Regions from separate parts of the Homo sapiens genome. Here region 2 is linked to region 1. Evidence: fine-mapped expression QTL. A gene starts in region 1. The other region holds a variant in brackets. All regions are shown on one strand. Distances are between the middles of the regions. Region 1 holds the start of ZIK1 (zinc finger protein interacting with K protein 1). Region 2 overlaps ZNF550 (zinc finger protein 550).

Evidence for each region.
Region 2: its variant is fine-mapped to the expression of ZIK1 in blood mononuclear cells (TOPMed, PIP 0.99).

Annotation. Positions count from the first base shown.
Region 1 is chr19:57,581,807-57,587,183 of GRCh38, reverse strand. ZIK1 (zinc finger protein interacting with K protein 1) reads right to left here and starts at 3,039. Exons shown (of 4, transcript NM_001010879.4): 1 at 2,795-3,039; 2 at 2,194-2,232. The coding sequence starts at 2,827. RefSeq lists enhancers at 3,203-3,302, 2,999-3,530.
Region 2 is chr19:57,542,274-57,547,650 of GRCh38, reverse strand. ZNF550 (zinc finger protein 550) reads left to right here. Exons shown (of 4, transcript NM_001397372.1): 4 at 1-5,377. The coding sequence ends at 676. Among named protein-coding and RNA genes, the nearest start is that of ZNF550, 15 kb to the left of the region's middle. The variant ATCC/C (reference allele first, on the strand shown) is at 1,994.

The DNA of each region.
Region 1 (5,377 bases):
AGGGACCTGGTGAGAGGTAATCGAACCATAGGGGCAGGCCTTTCCCATGCTGTTCTCATGATAGTAAATAAGTCTCACAAGATTTGATGGTTTTATAAGGGGGGAGTTCCCCTGAACAAGTTCTCTCTTGTCTGCTGCCATGCAAGACATGCCTTTCACCCTCCACCATGATTGTGAGGCCTCCCCAGCCACGCGGAATCATGAGTCCATTAAACCTCTTTTTCCTTACAAATTATCTAGTCTCCAGCACATCTTTATCAGCAGCATGAAAATGGACTAATACAGTAAATCAGTATGAGTAAAGTGGGGCTGTGCTGTAAAGATAACTGAAAATGTGGAAGCAATTTTGGAATTGGGGAACAGGCAGAGGTTGGAACAGTTTGGAGGGCTCAGAAGAAGACAGGAAAATATGGGAAAGTCTGGAACTTCCTAGAGACTTGCTGTCTTTATCAGCAGTGTGAAAATGGACTGATACACCAGATCATCCTCTTTCCTACAATCTTCCCATGACCACTTTTCTCTCACAACTGTTTGTGATGCTCACCACCTCTACCACGTGTCCAAGCATGAGACACAGTCATAGCCCCAACCTTCCCTTTTCTGTTTTTTTGTTTTGTTTTTGAGATGGAGTCTCACTCTGTCACCCAGGCTGGAGTGCAGTGGCGTGATCTTGGCTCACTGCAACCTCCGCCTCCTGGGCTCAAGCAATTCTCCTGCCTCAGCCTCCCTAGTAGCTGGGATTACAGGTGCCTGCCACCACGCCTGGCTAATTTTTGTATTTTTAGTGGAGACGGAGTTTCACCATGTTGGCCAAGCTGGTCTAGAACTCCTGACCTCAAGTGATCCGCCTGCCTCGGCCGCCCAAAGTGCTGGGATTACAGGTGTGAGCCACCACACCCAGCCCTTTCCTGCATTATAAATAGCATTATCTTCAAGACCAGGATTACCCACTCCTAATTGTGACCCATAGCTACTCTGGGCCAAACACTGGCCACCACCTTTTGGATTTCTCCATCTTAAACCACTTCCAGAATTCTAGATGTACATGGACAGCTACTCACCTGATGTCTCCATATATCATTCTTTGGAATATCTCAGACTATGATAATAGCTAAAGACAAAACTCCTGTTATCCTTAATGAAAATTAATTGGCTGGGCATGGTGGCTCACGCCTGTAATCCCAGCACTTTGGGAGGCCAAGACAGGTGGATCACCTGAGGTCAGGAGTTTGAGACCAGCCTGGCCAACATGGTGAAACCCTGTCTCTACTAAAGATACAAAAAAAAAAAAAAAAAAAAATTCGCTGGGCATGGTAGCACGGTAGCATGTGCCTGTAGTCCCAACTACTCAGGAGGCTGAGGCAGGAGGATTGCTTGAACCCGGGAGGTGGAGGTTGCAAAGAGCCAAGATCGAGCCACTGCACTCCAGCCTGAGTGACAGAGTGAGACTGTCTAAAAATAGACAAATAAATAAATAAAATAAAAATAAAATCAATCCTATAACATGCTATTTGATGGAGATTCCATCCTTCCAGATGCTAAATTCAAAATGCCTGGAGTAATGCTTGACCAGTATCTCTTACCCTCAAAATCTGAAAATGCAAGCAGGCCTAATTAAAATTCTGACCCAGAATCCAGCCACTTCTTCTACCTTCACAGCCACCACACTGGTGAAGCCACTATCAAAACTCACCTTGGCCACTGCAGTAGCCTCCTCCCTGGTCTTTCTATCGCCTCCATCACACCCACAGAGTATTCTCTATGCTGCATTAACAGTGAACCTGATGAGACCAGTGTCAGATAACCTCCGTTCTCTTCTCTAAACCTCCCATTGTTCTCATCACCTCCAGAAAAAACACCCAATTTCTCAGAGCCATTCCAGGCCTGAGTCCTGCCCTGCTGCTCTGAGTTCCCATGAGAAAGAAAGGAGAGTTGTGTTTCCCTGAATCAGCTCAGCTTCACTGCCAACCTTACACATTATTGTACGTAGGCGGGGCAACCTTTCACACCTCATTCCATTGTCTGCCAGCAATAAGAACGTCTACAAATAACCACCAGTCTAGAATCAGGATGTCAAGCTTCCAGTTTGTGAAGAGTCCTTAGGTCAAAGAACTGGATGGTGGCAAAAAGATCCATGAAAAAACCCCAGGATGGGGCCAGGACCAGTGAGGGCCTGGGACACCCTCCACTCACCTTTGTGAGGTCCATATGTGTTTCTGGAGACACAGTAACCTGTGGAAAGCCAAAGATCATGAAAGGCAGGTGACCATACAGGGCTCTACGGATTCAGGCTTCCCTGGATTCCTGTCCAGGCCAGAGCCAGGTGGACTGAGGATGCCTGCATTATTTCTGAGCCTCAGCGTTCCAGTCCTCAGTGCCAACTCTTAGCAACTGTGGGACCTTGCACAAGAACTCAACCTCCCTGTGCCTCTGTGTTATTCCATTCTATTCTAGTCTAACTCCATGAGGTTTTTGGAAAACTTCGAAAGACCTAACTCAGACCATATGCCGCTTCTGTACACAACCCTCCACGGCTCCTAGCATCCTAAGAATTGAGGGAAAACTCCTCACCTTGGCACTCCAGGTATGAACCTTCTTCACTGTGTCTCCAAGAGTTTAGAAACGCTGGTCCCTTTGCCTGTAACCCTCTTCCGTGCCCCATCACCCAAGTTCTGGAAATAGGGACCCCACCCACGAGCCCCCACTGTACTGGACATGAGGATCTCGACCGTAGTGACCCAAGAAGGCACTAATTTGGGGATGGAGGGTGAGGCCCAGTAGAGGCAGCGCTCACCTGAGTCGGGGCCCTCAGCGCGGCCGCAGCCATCGGAGTCTGTGGGCAGAGCGGGGCCGGGACCCGACAGCTACGGGCGGAGGGACCTAGGCAAAGCCGTCAACCCCGCCGCCGCCGACCCTTAGAACCCCCACTGTTCAGCGGGAGGACCCCTCCCCTCGCGCCTTCCGACTGTCGCCAAACAAAGCGCTCCCAAAGCTCTGACGGTCTGGATGCACCCAAGCGCTGCAAAAATGACCGCCACTGAAGTGATACCGGAAGTCCCTCCCCGACCCATTGGTCCCAAAGCGGAAACGACCCTTTTCTCAGCGCGGATTGGCTCAGCATCCCTGCGGCTGGAGACAAAACCTTCTGGGTTCTGTAGTCCCCGCTGGTCCCCAGGGCTGAGGGAAGGATGCTGCCGCCCAGCGTCACCTCAAACAAAAGCCAAGCGGCCGCGCTGGGGGCGCAGGGAAATGGCGTCGCCACAATGCAGGAGAGGGCTGGGCCTTGTCGCTCCTTAAACAGGCCGCTGGTCGATTTCTGTGGTCCCGTCGCGGCTGAGCGCCCACGTGATTAGAAGCATTGATTCAGGCTCAGGAAGCTGAGGCCAGATCCACACCGACGCGTATTCCATACGTATTCGACGCTCCTGCGGGAGCAAAGGAGCCTCGTGCCCCTCCCTTGCGGGGTCAAGGCGTTCGAGGCCGTGCCGGGGCCAAGGCTATTCTGTGAAAGGAGCGACTTAGGTGTCGCGCTGTGGGCACGTGTCCCGGGAGGCCACGTGGGGGCCGCGCCCCCGGCTGCTCCTGCTCTGACCTGAGCCCTTTGACTGTACCCAGAGGCGGGAGGCGGGGCCGAGACGTCCCATGGGAAGGGGTTCTCCGTAGCTCCACCCCGGGGGACGTCTCCTCCAGGGGGGCCGGGCGAGCTGGGAAGGCCCCAGAGCCGCCGAGGAAAGCGCCTCTGCTTCCCTGAGTCCCCTCCTGGGTCTAGGAGCCGTTCCTGCGTTTTCTGACGCCCTCTCCACCGCCCCTCGGCTGAGAACTGGGTCCAGATGAGCCTTGGACCCCGTTGAAGACGTCTCCTACCTCATCTCCCACACCTGCTGGGACCATCTCCAACCGCCCTCAGGGCAGTAGGGAGGTAGGCGGGTTCCCAGGGCACCCCAAGCGGTGGCGTACAGTGGTAGGAACAAGGCCTCTGGAGCCCAAGAATGGGATTTAGTCCCCGAGGGGAAGTCCATGCTCTGCCTTACAGCGGCTGGTATGGGCTTCTGGGGGCACCCTGAGACTCGGCCTGTAGGGATACTCATAATGGCCTCCATGAAGGTGCAGGTTTAACCACTGGACCAGTCTCATCTGGCCATCCTCTGTTGGTAACATAATGTCCAGTTATTTTGCAGGCACAGAGCTAAAGAGTTGCAAGTTACACAGCTAGAGAATGTGCAGAAAAGAAAATGTCAGGCCCAGCGCGGTGGCTCACACCTGTAATCCAAGCACATTGGGAGGCTGAGGTGGAAGGACCACTTGGGCAACATAGCCAGACCCCGTCTCTACAAAAACTAAAAAATTACCCGAGTATGGTGGTGCACCTGTAATCCTAGCTACTCAGGATGCTGAGGTGGGAGTATCGCTTGAGCCCAGGAGATCACGGTTACAGTGAGTTATGATTATGCCACTGCACTCCAGCCTGGGCAACGGAGCCAGACCCTGTCTCAATAAATAAATAAGTAAATAAATAAATAAATAAAAAGAAAAGAGAAAAGAAAACATTGACCCAACACTCGGAGCTGAAGTCTCACCTACCAGACTCCACCCTGTCACCACAGGAAACCAAAATATCAGGCTATGGCTGGAACCCAAGTGCTGAAACACTTCCGAAAGCAAGGGGTCTGTTGTCTCTGAATGTTGGGTGATAACAACCCCATCCCCGCCTTGCCATCAATAGATTTGTTTGAAGTCCTTCCAATCAAAATCCACCCTTCCAGTGCTTACCAACCTGTCCTTCCTAATCCTTAAAAGCTGCCCCAAACCCCATATTGGGGAGACAGATTTGAGCTGGACTCCTGTCTTCTTGTTTGTCGACTTGCAATAAAGGTTTGCTTTTCTCAAAAACCTGGTGCCATGGCATTGGCTTCTGTGTGCGTCGGACAGCAACCCTTTTCCTTATTAACACTGGCACCCTCTAGGTGACACGGTTGTGCACCTCATTACCCTCTGGTCCCAGAGGCCAGCAGCCCCCACAATGGCCACCTAACACCTGCCCTCACCCTCACTGTCCTTTCAGAGTTGCCACATCACATCAAACATGGCTCCCCAAACTTCAAGCATGTGTGTCCATCTAGGCATAGAACTAGCGGAATTGCCTGGATAACTTGGGGAGGAGGGATAGCCTAGTTCGGAAAACCTGCTCTGTGTGGCATGCCCAGGGGACAAATGACCCACCTACTCCTGAGGCCCAGTCCTTCAGGGAGAAGCCCAGCCAGAGATGAGGGAGGCTGCCAGTGGTCACAAAGCAGTAATAAATTCCATCTATGGCTAAACTTATGTGAGACCAACAGTCAATAAGTACCTAAAGAGAAAGCTGAAAAAACATTGAAGA
Region 2 (5,377 bases), 40 kb after region 1:
AGGGACAAACCCCTACAAATGCAAGCAGTGTGGGAAAGGTTTTAACAGGAAGTGGTATCTCGTTCGACATCAGAGGGTTCACACTGGAATGAAACCCTATGAATGCAATGCATGTGGGAAAGCCTTTAGCCAGAGCTCAACTCTCATTCGGCACTACCTCATCCACACCGGGGAGAAACCATACAAGTGCCTTGAGTGTGGGAAGGCCTTCAAACGCAGGTCGTACCTCATGCAGCACCATCCAATCCACACTGGAGAGAAACCCTATGAGTGTAGTCAATGTCGAAAGGCCTTCACCCACCGGTCTACTTTTATTCGCCATAATAGGACCCACACTGGAGAAAAGCCCTTTGAGTGCAAAGAATGTGAGAAAGCCTTTAGCAATAGAGCCCACCTAATTCAACATTACATCATCCACACTGGAGAGAAGCCCTATGATTGCATGGCATGTGGAAAGGCCTTCAGATGCAGCTCAGAACTCATACAGCACCAGCGGATTCACACTGGGGAGAAGCCCTATGAATGCACCCAGTGTGGGAAAGCCTTTCACCGGAGCACGTACCTCATTCAGCACTCTGTCATCCACACTGGGGAGATGCCCTACAAGTGTATCGAGTGTGGGAAGGCCTTCAAACGCAGGTCACACCTTCTGCAGCACCAAAGGGTCCATACATGAGAGAACCCTATTGCTGCAATGAATACAGCAAGGCCTTTACCCACTGTTATTTTATCATTCATAATGGGACCCACACTGTAGGAAGAAGTCCTTCGAATGCAAAGAATGTCAGGAAACTTTTCATTTTTTTTGTCAGCTCTTTCTTAACTAACACATGAGCAGTCACTTTGGAGAGAAGCCCTGTGAATACAGTGAATGTAAGGATCCCTTCAGTCACCACTCAGTTCTCACTCATTGCAGAAGGATTCATACCAGGGGGAAATGTGGAAGGCATTCCATCAACATCAGAGAACTCATGCTGGAGAAAGACATTCCAAATATAACTATTAAGGACAGTCTTTGGCCAGAGCAGAAATCTTACTATCTGAGAATCATAATGAAAAGTTACTACATAATTGTTATTGATGTGAGAAAACTTTGTGACCAGGTTGTCACTTGCTTGTCCTATAAAGAGCCATGCTGGAATTTGACCCACCTTGGGATTTTCTCTATGAACTTATGAAAACCTTCAGTTACAGGTATCTTCTTGCTTTATGTCCTTACAGACTTCCCTGTAAGATCAGTTTTATTTTTTGGTAGGGGAATGTTTGAGAGGTAAAGGGGTTTTATTCCTTTTTTTTTTTTTTAACATACATTCACTGCCATCCTTTGTCAGAGTTAGACAGTGAGGGCAGCTCTTCAGGCATTTCTTGGAAGTTGCCTTTGATCCAGACATCTCTGGGAGGATATCCATGAGGAGAGTAATTCTTTGTGAGAAATATGAAGGCTTGTGTCATGAGATTCTTGAATTTAGTAGAAATTAGAATACTGAGAACATCTTCATGTGACACTTCTTTTTTATATCTAGGGTGAGAAGAACCCATGTACAGATGGCCACATTAAAATGTGCACCACATTAAAATGTGCAATACCTAAGACTGTTTAAGGCTTTGATTTTTATTAATAAACTCATTATTTTTTAAGAGACAGGGACTTGCTCTGTCACCCAGGCTAGAGTGCAGTGGCATGATCATAGTTCCCTGTAACCTCGAACTCCTGGGCTCAAATGGTCCTCTTGCCTCAAGTTTCTGAGTAGCTTGGGATACAGGCATACACCACTACGCCTGGCTAATGTTTGTAATTTTAGTAGAGACAAGGTTTTACCATGTTGGCTGGGCTGGTCTGGAACTCCTGGCTTCAAGTGGTCCACCTGCCTTGGCCTCCCAAAGTTCTGGGATTACAGGTGTGAGTCACTGCACCCAGCCTTAAATTTTTTTGTATAGATGAGGTCTTGCTGTGTTCCCCAGATTTGTCTCAAACTGCTAGACTCAAGTCATC[ATCC/C]TGCTTAGCCTCCTAAAGTGTTGGGATTACAGGTGTGAGCCACCACACCTAGCCTAATATGGTTTCAAATGCTCAGCACTCTCACATTTTCCTGATTCCATTCTGTCTGTTTGTTGTCTTTATTTTCTCTGGCAACATAGTGATCACTTTGTACTTGCTTGGCCTTCTCAGATGAGTCCTAATTCTTTCTGGTGTTTATCAGATTCTTTAATCCTGTGTAGAGGGGTATTTTTAGGTCCCCCTCAGCATTTTTCTAGGGATTGAATTATAGCTAAAACAGGCAAAATAAAACACACAACTAAGATGAATCCATGGTAAACCCAGTAAACCCAAGAAAACAACATGGAGAGGAATCTCATTGTCTGATCTTATAAACATTTGCGTGAAGTTTTGCTACAAAATAAAGTGCCTAGCATTTTAACAGGTGAATCAGGATATACGTGGGCAGGTTTACGTGAGTTTCATAGTTAACCACCATGACCTTAGTCCCTTGGTGCTAGCACTGAATATGGTAATTAGTTTTGTTGTGTTTTGAGATGGAGTCTCACTCCGCTGCCTAGGCTGGAGTGCAGGAGTGCGATCTTGGCTCATTGCAACCTCTGCCTCCCGGGTTCAAGCGATTCTCCTGCCTCAGCCTCCCAAGAAGCTGGGATTACAGGCATGTACTACCATGCCCAGCTAATTTTTGTATTTTTAGTAGAGACAGGGTTTTGCCATGTTGCCCAGGCTGGTCTCGAACTCCTGACCTCAGGTGATCCACCCACCTCAGCCTGCCAAAAAGCTGGGATTACAGGTGTGAGCCACTGTACTTAGCCTGAATCTGGTAATTTGAAATTCCTTTTGTGAGATTTTCTTTTAGTTTTCAAGCTACATGAGATAATGTTAGGTTAAAACGTGTGAAAAATAGAAAATTATCATTTTCTCACTTTGAGCTTTCCTCACAACCTTTTAAAGCACTGCATATATATTCATGTTTTCATAGTGGGCATGTACCTTTTACTGTGGTCCTTTTGCACATATTATAAATAGAATTCTTGGTGAGTTAAGAGTTCTCTGTTTTTGTTTTTTCAGGACAGAGTGCACAGTTTCCTCTCCTGTGGGAAGGAGAGTTGACTCTTGAGGACCCCCACCCTCCTGCATCCTCTCTCTGGAAGGCTGCATGTATTGTAGCTGTGGCTGTACTTGTACCTAAGGCCCTGGGTTCAAGAGAGTTGGAGAAACCCCTCTAGAAACATATTGGCTGTCATCAAAGGGTTCTTTCCAGGCCTGAGGACCTAGGCCCCAGTTTGTCCCAAAGCAGGAGTGTTTTCCATGGGATAAAGGACACCCTAGGTTTTTCTTAGCTTCCAGCTCTTTCCATACAGTCTTCACTGAAGTGTTTGGTACAAGGATCTACTATGAACTTGCTGCTGTGATAGGCAAGAATCTCATGAGACACCTGTCATTTAGCTCCATGGCCACTCACTGTTGTGGTCATACTTAGAAGAGTGGGATGCAGTGGATGGCTGGGCTATGGGTCCTGCCCTTGAGCAGGGAAGGAACTTACTGTCTAATATAGGAAAAACACATGAGAACAGGTGCAATATATTGACTTAAACTTGTTTAGCACCCGTTTTTAAGTCAGTAGAAGTTTTGAACTTACAGTAAAAGTTGTGAACTTCTGTATGTTTTCCACAGTTTATGATTGAGGTAAAACATGTTTTTTGTTTTGTTTTTGAGACAGAGTTTCACTCTTGTTGCCCAGGCTGGAGTGCAGTGGCGCCATCTCAGCTCACTGCAACTTCTGCCTCCCGAGTTCAAGGGATTCTCCTGCCTCAGCCTCCCGAGTAGCTGGGATTACAGGCGCCCACCACCATGCCCGGCTAGTTTTTTTGTATTTTTAGTAGAGACGGGGTTTCACCATGTTGGCCAGGCTGGTCTTGAACTCTTGACCTCATGTAGTCCACCCGCCTCTGCCTCCCAAAGTGCTGCGATTACAGGCGTGAGCCACCGTGCCCGGCAGAGGTAAAACGTTTTCATGTTCATGTTTTTGTAACTTTGTTACATTTAATGAACAAATTAGATAAAAAGCACTATGCTCTTATGCTGCTTAATCTGTGAGAAATGATTGTGGGGGTGGGACTAGTTATGACCATTCACAGTTGGTGCACTTCAATCAGTAAATGTCACAGAGGAAATGTGGACGGTAAATTAACTCGGCAAGTCGGTCATGCAAAGACGAATTAGAAATCTTAATATTTGTAAGCAGACAAAAAATGTGTCTGGAAGGATCCTCACCCAGTTAAATGGTATTTGCTCCTTGGGTGTAGAGGGAGGGAAGGGATGGGGTAGAGGGGAATGTCAGAGTTCACTTTAACTTCATGCACATGTGGAAATGTTTGAAATGTTCACAGTAAATTTTATAATTTCAGAAAAACTGCTTAAGGTTGAAAAGAGAAATTTAAGAAATTGCTGACGGAATAAAAACATAATAGAACTACAACACCGAAGGAAATGAAAGAAGCAAGAAGGAAAGCACCAGAAGTGATTTGGAAGAGAAATCCTAAAATGAATGTGAACAACAGAGTGATCAGAAGAGTGTAGGGAATTAATAGTTTCTTTAAACAAGCCATCTCACAATGGAAGCCTGTGTGTCTTGAAATTGCTGTGGTTATTATTCACTCTGCCCTTTGAAGAACTGCAGAAATTCATAGGGCAATGTTAAGTGTTTGTGTCTCCAAAAAAGATGTTGGAGTCGTTACCCTCAGAACCTCAGGTAATCATGTTAGTTAATCCATTAGGTTAGTTCCTAATTGACTATGACTGTGTCCTTAGAAAAATGGGAAATTTGGTCACAGAGGCAGATGTACAGAGGGAAGACGATGTGAAGACACAGGAAGAACATCTTCAAGCCAAGGAACACACGGGGCTACCAGAAGCCGAGATAGAAGCATGGAACATATGTTCTAGTAAGAAGTGTCTGGGTTGTTTTGGTTTTTTTTCTTTGGAGTTTTTGTGGTATTAAATTATTTTTAAATTATGTTTTATTGTAGACCTCACAATTCTTTTTTTTTCTTTTTCACTCAAACTACAGCAAAATATTATATTTCTATCCTATATTTCATGGGCTTACCTCTAGCCAATTGTTTTTAACTGCCATGTAATATTTTACATCATGAAGCTTTCATCCTTGATTCAAATCCTCTGATTATGGACATGTATTTCCTCCATTTTCCTGCTATGAAATATATCACCACCAGCTTGATTCAACCTTAAAAATAAGGTCATCAGTATTATGTTCTAAATAAACTTATGGCCATACATGAGAAATGTACCTTGCAGCTGAATGGCTAGGTCATATGGTGATCTAGTATGTAACTGGAATTATGTTATACATTGCCC